Regions from separate parts of the Homo sapiens genome. Here region 1 is linked to region 2. Evidence: fine-mapped expression QTL. Tissue or cell type: whole blood. Region 2 holds a variant in brackets; the other region holds the start of a gene. All regions are shown on one strand. Distances are from middle to middle.

Region 1 (8,174 bases), 24 kb after region 2:
AACTGAGACTTGGGGAATGGTATCAGGTGGTTCTATTGCAGATATTCTTTTTTTTTTGAGATGAAGTCTTGCTCTGTCGCCCAGTCTGGAATACAATGGCATGATCTCGGCTCACTACAACCTCTGCCTCCCAGGTTCAAGCGATTATCCTGCCTCAGCCTCCCGAGTAGCTGGGATTACAGGCGCCCAGCTAAGTTTTGTATTTTCAGTAGAGACGGGGTTTCACCATGCTGGTCAGGGTGGTCTCAAACTGCCGACCTCAGGTGATCCACCCGCCTTGCCTCCCTGAGTGCTGGGCTGACAGGCTGAGCCACTGCGCCCGGCCACAGACATTCTTTTCACTCCTTCCTCCTGTGCTGTAGAGCTGTGGCCTTAGCAGGGCAGGCAGCCAGTGGATGTTCTGGGGCTCCAGAGCGGGTAGAGCTCACCAGCCCCACCCTTGGACAGCCTCTGTCAGGGTTCATCTACGGTCCCAGACCACCTGGAGCACCTTTTACATATGCAGATGCCAGGGCCCTCCCCAGACTGGCTGGATCAACTCCTCAGGCCGGGGTAGGGATGGTGCTAGGCATCTGTGGTTTCACAAGAGCCTCTGAAAAAGCTCACTAAGCTGGAAAAGCTGGGCGGGTGCGGGGTAGGCTGCTGATTTTCTGGGCTCCCTCCTTCATCCCCCAATCTGAGCCCTTCTAAAATTTTTCCTTTTTTTTTTTTTTTTTTTGAGAGCGAGTCTCGCTCTGTCACCCAGGCTGGAGTGCAGTGGCGCGATCTCGGCTCACTGCAAGCTCTGCCTTCCGGGTTCACACCATTCTCCTGCCTCAGCCTCCCAAGTAGCTGGGACTACAGGCGCCCGCCACCACGCCCGGCTAATTTTTTGTATTTTTAGTAGAGATGGGGTTTCACCGTGTTAGCCAGGATGGTCTCGATCTCCCGACCTCGTGATCCGCCCGCCTCGGCCTCCCAAAGTGCTGGGATTACAGGCGTGAGCCACAGCGCCCGGCGAGCCCTTCTAAAATTTCTACCCAAAGAGTCCAGAGTGCCCCAGGCAGCTGCTGTGGGCACAGCACCCCCAGCCTCTGAGCAGCCCCATCCCCAAGCACTCTGGCTTCAACACTCCTAGAGGGCTCACTGTGCACAGGGTACATGGCTAACGTATCAACCCTGCCAGGTAACCTCGGTTGTGATGTCCTTTCATTCATTCATTCATTCATTTATTTACTTATCACTCTTGTAGCCTCGGCTTCCCAAAGTGCTGGGATTACAGGCGTGAGCCACCATGCCCAGCTTACAGTTTTCGTGTATAAGTCTTTTTTTGAGACAGTCTCTCTCTGTCACCCAGGCTGGAGTGCAGTGTTGCGATCATAGCTCACTGCAGCCTTGACCTCCCAGGCTCAAGCAATTCTCCCACCTCAGCCTCCAAATAGCTGGGACTACAGGCACAGGCCACCATGCCCAGCTAATTTTTTTTGTAGAGACAGGGTTTTGTCTTTTTGCCCATCATTTGTTCCTAAGAATTTCTTTTTTGATGCTGTGTTTCATACAGCAAGTGCCTTTGCCTCTCTGGGCTTCCATTTCTCATCTCTAGGATGATAGTCCCGAAGCATCCAGCACACAGGGAGGTAGAAGCATTTGAAGTTCCTGGGGGGGTTGCGTGGACAGGTGGGCAGGACCCGGCTCCCAGGTCAGGGGGGCGTGGCTTCTGCTTATCCATTTCCCAGGCTCTCTTCTCCTTTCACATCACCCTGTCTGAAGCCCTGGCTGTCCCACGGCTCCCTAGGCCCATTCAACAGTTGCTCCTTGTACCTTAAAACCCTCAGGCCGGCCGTGCGCAGTGGCTCACGCCTGTAATCCCAGCCCTTTGGGAGCCCAAGGGGGGCGGATCACGAGGTCAGGAGGTGGAGACTAGCTGAGACCATCCTGGCTAACACGGTGAAACCCTGTCTCTACTAAAAATATAAAAACCAAATTAGCCGGGCGTGGTGGCAGGCGCCTGTAGTCCCAGCTACTTGGGAGGCTGAGGCGGGAGAATGGTGTGAACCCAGAAGGTGGAGCTTGCAGTGAGCTGAGATCACGCCACTGCACTCCAGCCAGGGTGACAGAGCAAGACTCAAAAAAAAAAAAAAAAACCCTCAGGCCAACAGCCCAGCGGGCTCAGGGATGATGGGAAAGGAGCCATCCCTGCGGTGCTGATTTGATTTCCTCCCGCACCAACCCACAAGGTGGGCTCTCTTACCCAGTTTGACAAACGAGAGCACTGAGCCTCTGGGGCAGTTGCCCTCAGACTTGTCTCAAAGCTGGAACAGGGCTGGCCTTACTCCCAGGTCCTCTCTGCCCAGCACATCTACTCCTGACATTCCCCTCAGCATCAGGCTCAGATGGGTGTCACTGCCCTTACTGCTCACAGTACCTGCCATGTGCTCAGGGGTCAGGAAACACTGATTGACCGACTGACTGAATGAATGAATGTCTGTCTCTTGGACACAACAGAGCTTGAAGGCAAAGGTGCTGGGAGTTGGGGGGAGGGGCTTGAGCCTCTTCCTTTTTTTTTTTTTTTTTTTTTTTAAAAGAGACAGGGTCTCACTCTGTCACCCAGGCTGGAGCACAGTGGCATGATCCTAGCTCACTGGAGCCTTGACCTCCTAGGCTAAAGGAGGTACTCTTGCCTCTGCCTCCCAAGTAGCTGGCACTACAGGCAGGTGCCACTGCACCAGGCTAATTTTTTTTTAGTAGGGACAGGGTCTCATTTTGTTGCCCAGGCTGATCTTGAACTCCCGGCCTCATGCTGATCCTCCTACCTCAGCCTCCCAAAGTGCTGGGATTACAGGTGTGAGCCACCACACCCGGCCTCAAGACTCTTTATGAAGAAAAGGTTCTTCAAAAAGAGGGCAGAGTCCCCAGTATGTAAACAGCGGTCCCCCTGGGAAGTTCTTCCTCATGGCAATCGTATGACTGTCACTTCACAATGACACTCTCTCAGTCAACCTTGGCAAAGAGGAAAAGGGGAGTGGAACTTGAGGGAGGAAGTCACAGCTGTGGAAACCTCCAGAGCCCCTCCCTGCAGGGATCAAGCCCAGGGCACTCTCTCCTGCAGTACATCTGTTTATCCCCAGCCACAGCCCAGTCTCCCCAGGGCTTCTGTGGGCTCAGACCAGCCCAGAACAGGCACCCACAGGCTGTGTGGGGGGGCGAGAGCACCTTCATGATGGCATTGCTCTTTTTTTTGAGATGGAGTCTTCCCCCCCCGTTCCCCCCTTCCCCCCTGCCCGTCTCCCAGGCTGGAGTGCAGTGGAGAGATCTCAGCTCACTGCACCCTCCACCTCCCAGGTTCAAGCAATTCTCCTGCCTCAGTTCCTGAAGTAGCTGAGACTACAGGCACATGCCACCACACTCAGCTAATTTTTGTATTTTTAGTAGAGACGGGGTTTCCCCATGTTGGCCAGACTGGTCTTGAACTCCTGACCTCAAGTAATCCGCCTGCCTCAGGCTCCCAAAGTGCTGGGATTACAGGCGTGAGCCACCACGCCTGGCCTGTCATTGCTCTTCTGATGAACAGCAGCTCCCATGGAGTGCTCACCATGCCCTGCGGAAGCCCTTCAGTGTGCTAACTCAATGAAGCTTCACACACAACCCTCTGGGGTAGTGACTATTATTATCCCCATTGTACACCTGGGGAAACTGAGGAACAGCATGTGAATCCCTTGTCCAGGGTCATAGAGCTTGAAAGGGGAGAAGCTGGAAATGAGTGTGTCTGAATGGGCACATTCTTTCCCACAGCCATTCCATGAAAAGTACAGATTAGGATTCCCATTTAAAACGAGGCCCAGAGGAGTAGATTGACAAGCACAAAGTCACACAGCTATGAGGGGCCAAGACTGGACTTGAACCTCGTCTGAGGTCACAGCTCGGGGCAGTGTCACCAGCACTGTGGATCAGAGGGGCTAGAGCCATTTGGGACCTCTTATTTCCTGCGGAAGCCTTGGCTTCCTGCTGGTGACCTGGCAGCGGCCCAGGGCGGCTGCCTCCTCCCTGGCTGTGGTTCCCGGCGGCGGGGAGCTCCTGTCTTCTGCCAGGCTGAGGCGGGAGTGTGTGTGAACCATCTTCCCATCTTTGGATCTGGATTCTAGGGGCTGTCTTTCCTCATTCCTTCCCCTCCCTCGCCGGGGGGTGCACTCTAGGCTGTGGGGCTGGGGGCTGAGTGACAGACACTGAGATGAGACCTTTCTGGATAGGGGAGGAGGACTGGCCCCATTCCCGGCAGGTGGGATTTAAATTAGACCCTGGAGGAGTGGGCGTAGGACATCTGGCCAGGGATGGGTTGCATGGAGGGTGTGGCCCTTGGCCCTGGGTGTGACGGGTTTTCTCTGGGGTCTGAGGCAGGAGGTCAGGAGTGGCGCTGTGGCCCAGGACATCTACCCAGGAAATGGAGTCCCGACTCCCCCAACGCCATTCATTCATTCATTCAGCCCAGAGGGGTTGCCCAGAGGCCCGAGGATGCAGCCGTCTCCCCCACCTGGACATCCGTCACTCGGGGTGGGATCCGATTAAGTGGGCGTGGGGTGGCCTCCCCGTCCCCGCACGGCCCCAGGACCCTCTTGCACAAGCGCCCGGCTTCCAATCCCGCGGCTGAGGGGTGCAGGGGAGGGGAGGGACCGGCTGCGAGCGGCGGCGCCATCCCCAGCCCCGGCGTCTCTGGGAAGAAACCGGGGCCGAGTCCCCGTCAAAAGGGAGGGGACGGGCCAGGATCCCCAACCAGGTCCCGCTTCCTGGGCTCGCGACCCCGCGGTGGGGGGCGTCGCCTCCCCTCTCCCTCCAAGGGGTGACGACAACTGGCGGGCCGGGGACCGCGCCGGGCTCGGGGCCGACCCGGACTCCGCACTCACCTGCGCTCATGCCGGCTCCTCGCGCTCATCGCCGGCCCCGGCGCTGCGGCCCTCGGCCTGGGCCCCGGCGTGCGCAAGGCCCTGGGCGGGGGCGCGGTCCGGACGGCCCGGGGCGAGGGGCGCTGGGCTAGCGCGGGGCTGGAGCAGGGCTGACGCGGGCGGGGCACCTGGGCCACCAGGCTCGGCGCGGCTCCGACACTGCCGCAGTCCCTCCGTGCGCGCCGCAAGCCCCGCCCGGCCCTCTGCGGCCCTCGCAGCGCCCGCGCCGGGGCTGCCGGGACTTGTAGTCCCCGCCTGCTCCTCCGCACACACCGGGGGCGGGGCGACCGGAGACACACACCTCACGGAGGTAGCCCCCGCCAGCACGTCCCAGTGGTTAGGGACTGTGCGTGCTGGTCCAGCTCTCCATGTCTTCCAGGCCGCGCGACCGTGAGCAAGTCACTGATCCTCTCTGGCCCTCTTTTCCCAACCTGTAGGATAGCAATGCCTGCTTCACAGAGAACTGCTGCGAGGATCACACAAGAAAATGCTTGTCAACTGGGCGTGGTGGCGCATGCCTGTAATCCCAGCTACTCGGAGACTAAGCCAGGAGAATCGCTTGAACCCAGGAGGCGGAGGTTGCTGTGAGCCGGGATCATGCCATTGCACTCCAGCATGGGCAAAAAGAGCGAAACTCTGTCTCAAAAAAAAAAAAAAAAGAAAATGCGTATCAAGCACTTGAGACAGTGCCTGGCGCTGCTTGATGAATGCAAAGAAGGAAGACACACCTGCCCAGAGATTCACAGGGTCAGATGTGGGCCCACAGAGACCCAGGGAGAGTCTGCCATGATGCACTGGAGGCCTTGAAATGCCAGAGAAAGAGAAGCCTCACAGCGTGACCTGCAGACACACCTGCACTGGGGGGATTCATGAAGACCCCTGAAAGGCACCAGAGATGTCTTACCTGCGTGCAGCATTTATCCTGCTACCCCATAGTGACCGGCACAGGCATAGTGTTCCCTGTCTCCAGGACCTCTGGACAGAGGAGCTCCAAAGGGGAGAGTGGATCTGTGAGATCCTAGGGCAAACAAGGGAAGGTTCACGTTAGGGCCAAGGATAGACGTGGGCAGGATCACTGGTCATTTGTCCAGTATGAATTTATGGAGTGCCAGCACCACTGTGGGAGCCAGGAACGTGAGAGTGAACAAAACAGAGATGCCCCTGTCCCTGCGGAGACTGCTGTCTACTGGGAAGTAGCCCTAGTCAAGGAAAGGAAAACTCCAACGATCCCTATTGTGGAAGGGGCTGGAAGGAGACACAGCTGTGATGGTGGTGAGGGTGTGGGTAGGGGATAGACCCCAGGAGGGAAAGCAGCACCTGATTCATAGCAAGATCCCAGTGAACATTTGGTACAGGAACACACGTTGGCAGGACTTGCTGGTGGATAGGATGTGGGGGTGCAGGAATGTGTGGAATTCAAGATGCTCCCCAGGGTTTTGGCCTGAGCAGCTGGGTGCCAGTGGAGCCATTTACTCAGCTGGGGCAGGCTGCCCGAGCCAACCAGTTGCGGGTCATTCCTGTTGACCACCTGGGCCATGGGACTGGCTTCCTTGGGTCAGGTGACAAGAGTTCTTTCATCTTCCGGTGACACTTCCAGGGGAGGCAGGCTGCTTAACTTTTCAGAACTCCCATGTCCTCCCCCAGGGCTTAGCTCAATTTCTGGCAGGAACCCAGCCTCCAGGGCAGCAGGAAGGCTGGGTTTGGAAATGGCTAGCCCAGGTGGCCTTGGCAAGAGGCAGTATGGTACAGTGGCAAGGGGCTGGGTTCTGGCATCAGAAAGACATGGATGCATGAGTTGCTTTCTAGCTGTGTGAGCTTTAAAATGTCACTTTCCTTCTCTAAGGCTCTCCTTCCCCTCACCTACAAAATGGAAGGCATGGAGAGGATGAAATGAGATGGCAGGAACTTGGTAGAAGCCAGCTGCTTGCTTTAGATCCTGGCACTGGATTAGCGGCTTCATAAAAGCAGAGGTACTCCAGTCTGGGTGAAAGACTGAGACTCCCTCTAAAATAAATAAATAAATAAATAAATAAATAAATAAATAAATAAAAGCAGAGGGCTTGGGGACTGCATGGGGGACTGCCTTGCAAGGGTGCCCCCTTCATTCTTTTTATTGCTAAGGCTGCCTGGCCTTAAAGGGGCTCTATTCCCTGAGCCAGCTGGGAAGGAGCCGCACCTGCAGCTCGTCCCTTCTCCTTAATGAGGGAGGAGGCCAGAGGAAGCTTCCTTCCAAACCACAGAGCATGTGGGAGGCCTTGCCATCTGCTTGGGGTTACCTTTGGGGAAGTGGCTCTCGGTGTGTGGTCATCGAGGAGGTCTGTGGCCCAGGCTGTCTTCCCGGATAACCGTGTCTGAAATTTCCAGTCCCACGTGGGTGAGAACCGACTGAACAGCTTCCCTTCTAGGCTGTGGCTCTCTTGGGAACCCACGGAGAGGGCGTAATAGGCCTGGTCCCAGTGGCAAAAAGCTTGAGAAATCACTAATTTGGGCGAGTTTATTCCAGAGCATTGCTTTACTTTTCGACTTCTCTAGTTTCACTAGATTTTTGCAACAAAAGAGGATTTTTTTCACCTAGTAACAAACCCTGTTGGTAGGATTATGGCTGTCTAGACACACAGTAAAGTGGGGTTTCAGTTTTTGTTTTTGTTTTTTTTGTTTGTTTGTTTTGAGACAGGGTCTCTCTCTGCTGCCCAGGTTGGAGCACAGTGGCATGATCTCAGCTCACTGCAGCCTCGACCTCCTGGGCTCAAGTGATCCTCCCACCTCGGCTCAAGTGATCCTCCCACCTCAGCCTTCTGTGTACCTGGGACTACAGGTGAGCACTACCACACCCAGCTAATTTTTCTGTTTTTTTTTTTTGTAGAGATGGGGTTTGCCATGTTACCCAGGCTGGTCTCGAACTCCTGTGCTTCAGAGATCCACCTTGGTCTCCCAAAGTGGGATTACAGGAGTGAGCCACTGTGCCTGGCCGAGTTTCAGCACTTTGTATGGTAGTTATCCTGGTGCCAGGAAGGGAAGGGGCCTGAAGAGAATTTGACCAATGGGAGTCCCTCCCTGACCTGAGCAGTGTGACGGGAGAGATGAGAAATAAGCAATATTAGCCTTGCACGGAAAAACCATCCTCCCAACAGGGAGGCCTCTAGCTCTGGCCAGTCATGTCAGAAACATGCCAGCTGTCAACTCAGGGTTGGGAAGGAATTACTCTTGCAGCCTCCCAGCATTCACTCGAGGGCCTTTCACATAGTAGGTACTCAAGAC
Region 2 (8,174 bases):
GGCCCCGGCCCTTTATGGCAGCCTGGCTCTGCCTCCTCTTCCTCCTCCAGCCACTGGCCTTTGGGGGTTTTCTCCCAAACCCCTCTCCCTCCCACACTGAGGCGTTTCTTCCTCCCGAGCACTGGCTGAGGTCTCCTCCATGGGGTCACAGATCAAACCCTCCCTTCCTCAGAGGGGCCTTCCCTTTTTCCTTTTTTTGTGCTTTCTAGCTTTACTGCTTGCAGTTGTCTTGTTGGCCTATGTCTGTGACCATCTGAGCCCTGTCCCTCTTCCCGATGAGACTGTCATCTTGCCCCGTGAAGGCCAGGACCAAGGCTGTTTTTGCTCATCTTCAGTTTTGCTCATTAAGTTCAGAGCCCGGCTCAGAGCAGCAGTTCAGCAAACATTGGTGGAATGAATGAGTGAACTGTACACTAAACTCTTCCCGGAGAAGCTGGCTGGGGGTGCAGATCCTCTGCGTGAGGGGCAGCCTTCAGCCCTGCCCAGGAGCCTAGGCCTGAGGCGGGAGTGAGAGTTGTAGGGGCTGCGGGCTGGGAGGAGATGAGGATGGCCCCTGATTTAGACCCTTGCCATCTGATCTCTTCATCGCCAGTCATTCCCCCACCTCCCTTAGACTCTGAGTCTTAGGGAGGGAGTAAATATGCCCTGTGCCTCCTTCATTCCCATGCCCCGCCCCCCAGTGTCTATTGCAGGGCAGCAGAGACTTTTGTCACCTGGAGAGAGGTGGGCCCTCAGGCCAGGCCAGCCCAGCCCTCTCTGCCTGCCCTTAGACCCCACTGCTGCCAGGAGCAATCCCACTGGCAAAAGAGAGGAACTCACCCAGCAGAAATGCTGTCCCCTACCCTTGAAAAAAGGAGGGAGGTTGGGTGCAGTGGCTCACACCTGTAATCTCAGCAGTTTAGGAGACCAAGGCGGGTGGACCGCTTGAGCCCAGGGGTTTGAGACCAGCCTGGACAGCATGGCAAAACCCCATCTCTACAAAAAATACAAAAATTAGCTGGGTGTGGTGGTGCTGGCCTATAGTCCCAGCTACTCAGGAGGTTGAGGTAGGAGGATCACCTGAGCCTGGGGAGGTAGAGGCTGCAGTGAGCCACGATTGCACCACTGCACTCCAGCCTGGGCAACAGAGCAAGACCCTGTCTGAAAAAAAAAAAAGAAAAGAAAAGAAAAACTGGGAAACTGAGGGGCTAAAGCTGACAATTCGTGTCCTGGCTCCCATGTCCTCTCTGCTGCTTCTACCCATTCCCCTGGCTGTTTCTTTGGGCAGGGGAGGGGATGGGGCTGTGGTTGCTGTGCTCCCACTACGTCTTTGGAGATGTGCTCCTTCCCTGCCAGGCTTTCACGCTGGATGGTGAACTGCTCGCAGGGTTAGACCATGTTTTTGTCCCGTTTTATTCAGTTTGTTGAGTTAGTCCTGGTGCCTGGCACACACCTGTCCAACAGATTCATGAATAATCAGCTAAGGGTAGAGGAGGGATTTGAACCCAGGCCTCTCTGTGGCTTCCTCTTAAACAGCATCTACCACCCTGAACCGTCGCTGGCTGGCAACACAGTGCCAGGAGCAGAGGTCCACTGTGATGTGCCTCCTGGCAGGACTTTCATCTTCACACCCACATCCCTTCTCCCCAGCATGATTCAACGTTTTCTCAGCCCCTACTCTGGCAGGCCTGGGGATAGCACCAGGGGTTCCAGGAATGAGGTTGGCCAGGGCTTTTGGAAGGCAGGAAACAGCCGGTCTTTCCTGTTCTCCCCTGCCCAGATGAGCCAGACGGCCAAGCTGCCTCTCTAGAGCAGAGGGGCTTGGCCAGGGGCCCGCTGGTGAGATGAGCTCAGAGGCACCCACCCTTCCCTGAGGGATGATGCGCGTGGTTCTGGCTGGGAGATGTGGGCTCCGAGCCTGGATTTCATCTGAGGAAGGAACTGCCCACAAACATGTCCCAGGATGCTGGGGTGGGACGGGGAGGGGGTAAGGTGGGAGAGAGGGAGCTGCCCCCTAGCAAATGCCTCCCAGGCAAGCCTACATCTCCTTGTCCTCCAAAGGAGGGTAGGAGGGTTAGGAACATCGAAGCTGGAGTCAAAGCTATCCGGCCCCACTCTGACTACTTGTGTAACCTCTAAGCCTTGGTTTCTTCATCTGTAAAATGGGAATAGTACCACAGTTGTTGGAAGGATGACATGACAATGTGTGTAAAATGCTAAATGGGGCCAAGCGCAGTGGCTCACGCCTGTAATCCCAGCACTTTGGGAGGCCAAGGTGGGCGGATCACCTGAGGTCAGGAGTTCGAGACCAGCCTGGCCAACATGACGAAACCCTGTCTCTACTAAAAATACAAAATTTAGCTGGGCGTGGTGGCACATGCCTGTAATCCCAGCTACTCGGGAGGCTGAGGCAGGAGAATCGCTTGAACCTGGGAAGCGGAGGTTGCAGTGAGCAGAGATCACCCCACTGTACTCCAGCCTGGGTGACAGAGCAAGACTCCATCTCAAGAAAAAAAAAAAAAAAAAAAAAAGCTAAACGGAATATCCAGGCACATGCTGGACACAGAGGAAACATTATTACTGTGAGATGAGGGAACACAGGCCCAGAGAGGGGAGTTGGCCAATGGAGTCTGAAAAACCAGGGGGTTCCAGGGGGTTGTCAGGCTGAAAAACCAGCCTGAAAAACCAGCCCCCCAGGGGGTTCCAGGGGCAGACACGTGCAGGGGCTGCCAGCTGGGCACCCGGGGGTATGTGCATTTCCTCCTGGGCAGGTGGGAGGGTCTATGGTGCCAGGTACAAGACAGGCACAGCAGAGCCAGGAAAATATCATGACTTTATTTGCTACACTGACAGCAGCACTGAGGGGAGCTGGGGGCTGCCACCCCTACGCGGGATGGTCCAAGGTAGGGGACAGTAGTCAACGCTTCCCCAGGGTGGGGGTGGTCTCGGGGGAGGAGTGTAGACAGTCGCCAACCTCAGGGATGTGGGAGGTGGTGGCGGTGGTGTTGCTGGAGAGGGGTCCAGTTGGTGGCTCAGAGGCAGGGAGTTCCAGTGTCTGGGGTGCCCGTGGGCCTGCACTACCTCAGGGGGCCGGCGGGCAGCGGCGGCCAGGGCTGCTCGGCCAGCTCTCGTTCCAGCTGCTTGAAGCGCTTCTTGGAGGCCCGCTTGGGCCGGAGGCGGCGCAGGCAGGCGGGGAGGCACTGGTCTAGCACGCTCTGCAAAGGGCAGGGAGGGTGTCAGGGGCAGCCGGGGCTGAGCTGGGGTCAATGCACCCCCACCTCCCTTCTCTCCCGCTGCTGAGACCCAGGGCGGGCCCCACCTCCAGCATGAAGGCCCCCACGAAGTTGAGGGTGACCAGACCCAGCAGCAGCAGCTTGAAGCCGGTGTCAGTGATGTTCCTCAGCGCCAGCGGCCCCTGCAGGAGGCCGGGGACCAGGACAAGGCCCACCAGGACGGAGCTCAGGAGCGCCAGGGCCACCAGGAAGGGCACTGGGAGCAGGAGAGTCTCTCAGGCAGGAGCCACGCCCCCCCGGCACCCACAGACACACGTGTGCACGCCAGTCTTCCACTCGGCCGGCACCTCTCTCCCATCTGCCTCCCCAGCACCCCAGGGCTCCTCCCTCCCTCCGCCAGCATCTCCCGCCCGCGCCCGCAGTGGCACCATTGGTGTAGAGCGGCCGGCGGAAGGGCGCCCCCTTGGACACGGCTGCAGCCAGGATGAGGTACTGGAAGCTGGACAGAGAGAAGACCAC[G/C]GTGTTCTCGTAGTTGGGCAGGTTGTCTGGTGCGGCCACTGTCCTGTTCAGAGGCACGAACCTGGGGGTACAGGGATGGGGGTCAGGGAACGAACGTGGGGTGGACAGGGAAGGGGCGGGATGGGGGTGGTCAGTCAGCTCCCTACTCACCATGGCTGGGCCAGGGTCAGGAAGTAGCCCCCTAGCTGCACGCCGGTCACCAGGACCATCTGCAGCAGCAGGCTGCTGAGCACGGGCACGCTGAGCAGCGCCCCCGGTGGCCGCACCCGTCCCAGGACCAGCGCTGGCCCCGTGCGGCTCATGAGCACTGCCACTGTGGTGGTGATGACCAGGTCGATGGCCAGGAACTGCAGGTCACCCAGGTTGGTGTTGATCTGCCACAGGGAAGGGAGGACAGAGGGGAAACTAAGACCTGGCCCTGGCAGCCCCTAGTCTGATAGCAGAGGCCCCACCCCTGCCCCGAAGGAATCTGATGGGTAAGGCATCCCCCAGTCTAATGGGGGCCGTACTCTCCTGCCAGCCCAGCGGAGGAGGTGCCGCTCTTGATGTGAGACAAACCCCTGGTCTGATGGAAAGGGCACCTGTGCTGACCTTGGGGGCCTAAATCTGAGGGGAGGTTTCCCTCCCTGTAACAAACTCCCGGCCCGAAGGGGAGGCTTCGGCTCTGCCTTGCGGAGTCCCTATAGCTACCAGGGCATGCACAGTTCCTGCCCTCAGGGAGCTCCTCGCTTTCAGGCAGACACAGGGACAGACCCAAGTATAAGATGTGCGCCGCCCTGCAGTGTCACCTCATTCGCTGGGGGTGAGCAGGCCATGCCCAGAGCAGGGGAGGGGAGAGCTCCTCCAAGTAGGGTGTGGGAGGTACAGCCAAGGTATGGGGCAAAGCAAGTGCATCTGGGGAAATGGGCAGACCTGTGGGGATGGGGCGGGGGCGAGGGTTTTGGCCCTGCCTCCGTTCAGTCTTCCCTGCAGATTGGGGAGCTCCCAGAGTTGCGGTCAAGATGTTAGCCCATGACAGCTGCTGCCATTTGTGAGGACCTAGTGGGTACCAGGCTCCGTGCCTGGTGTTTTTCTCATCTCCCCCAAGCCTTGCCACCTCTCCAACCACACAGCCGGAGAGTGGCAGGGTCAGGATCTGGGCCCACGTCATCTATTCTGGGACCTGCCAGCTCCAAGGCACAGGGCTGTGTCCCCTCCCTAGTCCTGGGACGGCTCTGGGTACGGAGCTCTGCAGATACTCACCGTGTAGAGGATCAGGACGGAGATGAACTGGGTCAGGCTGTACAGAGCCATGTACTTGAAGACGCTGAACGAAGTGTCAAGGGAACAGCGCCCCTCCCTGGGTGGCAGGGCACGGACATTAGGGGACCCAGGTTGGCTGACCAGCCCTGCTGAGCCCTCACCCACCGGTCCCTGCCTGCCTTACCTGATGACCATGGGCACGCACTCAATACTGGCCATGCTCGAGGTGAAGGGTGAGACCACTGAGGCTTCTGCCTGGGACAGCGAGATGCCGACATCAGCCGCCTTCAGGGCCCCACAGTCATTGGCGCCGTCTCCGCACATGCCCACGCAGTACCTGAAGAGAGGTGTGGACAGGTGTGGCCTGGGGAATTACCCCACCACCCCATGGGTGGGCTGGCAGAATATGATGACAGCTGGGCCCCTAATGCCACATGGTGCCTGGTGTACAGGAGGCGCTCAGTGAATAGATGCAATTATTATTATTATTATCATTATTATTATTATTTTTTGAGACGGAGTTTCACTCTTGTTGCCCAGGCTGGAGTGTAATGGCATGATCTCAGCTCACTGCAACCTCTGCCTCCTGGGCTCAAGTGATTCTCCTGCTTCAGCCTCCCAAGTAGCTGGGATTACAGACGCCCGCCACCACGCCTGGCTAATTTTTTGTATTTTTAGTAGAGATGGGGTTTCACCATGTTGGCCAGGCTGGTCTTAAACTCCTGATCTCAGGTGATCCACCCGCCTCGGCCTCCCAAAGTGCTGGGATTACAGGCATGAGCCACCGTGCCCGGCCTATTATTTTTTGAGACAGAGTCTCCCTCTGTTGCCCAGGCTAGAGTGCAGTGGCGTGATCTCTGCTCACTACAACCTCCTCTGCTGCCCAAGTGCCCTCAGCCTCTTGAGTAGCTGGGATTACTGGTGTGCGCCACCATGCCCAACTAATTTTTGTATTTTTAGTAGAGACAGGGTTTCACCATGTTGGCCAGGCTGGTCTTGAACTCCTGACCTCAGGTGATCTGCCTGCCTCAGCCTCCCAAAGCGCTGGGATTACTGGCATGAGCCACCGCGCCTGGCCTATTACTATTTTTTGAGACGGAGTCTCGCTCTGTTGCCCAGGCTGAAGTGCAGTGGTGTGATCATGGCTCACTGCAGCCGCAGCCTCCCAGGCTCAAGCAACCCTCCTGCCTCAGCCTCTTGAGTAGCTGGGATGACCGGTGTGTCACCACACCTGGCTAATTTTTAAATTTTTAATAAGAGATGGGGTCTCACTTTGTTGCCCAGGCTGGCCTCAAACTCCTGGGCTCAAGTGATCCTCCCACCTCGGCCACTCAAAGAGGTGGGATTACAGGAATGAGCCACCGCACCCAGCCTACAATTATTATTTTTAGCATGAAAGACCTGGGAGAGCCTGCCTGCTTTTGGTGAGGAGGGGTGACAGCTCTCTGGTGCCTGAGGAGGGAGACAGGGCCCTGGGGAAGGACAGATGAACAGACGAACGGACAAGCTCAGTCTCCGCAGGCCCTTGCCCACACCCTCTGCCGAGCACTCACTGAAGCTTCTGTAGCTCGCACACCAGCTCTGTCTTCTGCTCAGGGGCCATGCGGGCAAAGACAGTGCCCTGGACCAGGACCTGGGAGCACAGGGAGATGGGGGAGGGCTGAGGCACCCACCAGGGAGAGCGAGCCGTGAGGAAGGAGACAGAGCAGGGGAGGCGCAGGGCGGCCAGGGAGCTGGGGGCGGCCCTACCTTGGGCAGCAGCTTGGGGAAGTGCTTCACAATGATACCAAAGGTGGGCCCGCTGAGGGCCAGGTGCCTGGATCGGGGGTCTGGCTCCACGGTGTAGCTTGCAGCCTGGTCAGGATCCTGGGGGCCCAGGAAGCTCAGCTTAGCTCCCCCTGCCCACCCTGGAGAGTTGGGGCCTGGGTCAGGTGACACAGGGGTGGGGTCACTGGGTGAGGTACAGCTGGAACTCTGGGTTAGCCTCACCTTAACGCCATTCACGGCTGTGGGGGACTCCATCGGCAGGAACTCGAGAGAGGCAGGCTGACCCCGCTCAGGGTGGGTGGCGTGGACGATGATCAGATGCTCCTGGGGGGCCACCATGCCACAGCCCCGGGCCACAGTCACCGCTGTCTGCAGGTTGTCCCCTGGGGGTTATGGGGCAAGGTGAGGGTCTGAGGCTATCCGGGGAGGCCATCCTCATCCTGATCCTTACAGATGGGAAAACAGGCTGGATGAAATCCGTCTGCCACCACCAGCCAAGTGAGCTGAGGCAGGTTACCAACATCCCTTTGCCTCAGTTTTCTCATCTGTAGATCCAGGCATTGAAGGGTCTTAGGAGAACCTGGAGCCGTGGGCTGGAGCTCCACATATACTCCTTTTTTTTCTTTTTTTAAGACAAGAGTCTCTCTCTGTGGCCCAGGCTGGAGTGCAGTGGCTTGATCTCGGCTCACTGCAACCTCCTTCCTCCTGGGCTCAAGCAATTCTCCTGCCTCAGCCTCTTGAGTAGCTGGGATTACAGGAGGGTGCGACCACACCAGGCTAATTTTTTTTGCATTTTTAGTAGAGATGGGGTTTCACCATGTTGGCCAGTCTGGTCTTGAACTCCTGGCCTCAGGTGATCCCCCTGCCTCGGCCTCCCGGAGTGCTGGGATTACAGGCACGAGCCATGTGCCCAGGCTACATATACTCCTTACTGCTGTGTGACTCTGCTGCCAAGTGCCCATGAATGTGTGTGCACATATGTGTGTGTGCAGGGGCGGGGAGGACAAGGACACAGACCTCTTAGCTCCTGCTGTCTCACCCTAGCTAGAATCTTTTTTTTTTTGAGACTGGGTCTCTCTCTGTTGCCCAGGCTGGAGTGAAATGGCGTGATCTCAGCTCACTGCAACCTCCACCTCCCGGGTTGAAGTGATTCTCCTGCCTCAGCCTCCCGAGTAGCTGGGATTACAGGCATCCACCACCATACCTGGCTAATTTTTTGTATTTTTAGTAGAGACGGGGTTTCACTATGTTGGCCAGGTTGGTCTCGAACTCCTGACCTCAAGTGATCCGCCCGCGTCGGCCTCCCAAAGTGCTGGGATTACAGGCGTGAGACACTGTGCCCGGCCATTTTCGTATTCTTTGTAGAGACGGAGTTTTGCCATGTTGCCCAGGTTGGTCTTGAACTCCAGGGTTCAAGACATCCTTCTCCTTTGG

What was found. PIP is the estimated chance that this variant, and not a neighbour inherited with it, causes the effect.
Region 1: ATP13A2 starts here. The variant in region 2 is fine-mapped to the expression of ATP13A2 in whole blood (TOPMed, PIP 0.97).

What each region holds. Positions count from the first base shown.
Region 1 is chr1:17,006,852-17,015,025 of GRCh38, forward strand. ATP13A2 (ATPase cation transporting 13A2) reads right to left here and starts at 5,077. Exons shown (of 29, transcript NM_022089.4): 1 at 4,878-5,077. The coding sequence starts at 4,887. RefSeq lists enhancers at 3,329-3,408, 4,172-4,221 and a silencer at 4,712-5,241.
Region 2 is chr1:16,983,165-16,991,338 of GRCh38, forward strand. It overlaps ATP13A2 (ATPase cation transporting 13A2), which reads right to left. Exons shown (of 29, transcript NM_022089.4): 21 at 6,963-7,123; 22 at 6,723-6,839; 23 at 6,527-6,606; 24 at 5,158-5,310; 25 at 4,974-5,070; 26 at 3,882-4,105; 27 at 3,641-3,792; 28 at 3,299-3,468; 29 at 2,794-3,194. The coding sequence ends at 3,057. Among named protein-coding and RNA genes, the nearest start is that of MFAP2, 6.6 kb to the left of the region's middle. The variant G/C (reference allele first, on the strand shown) is at 3,732.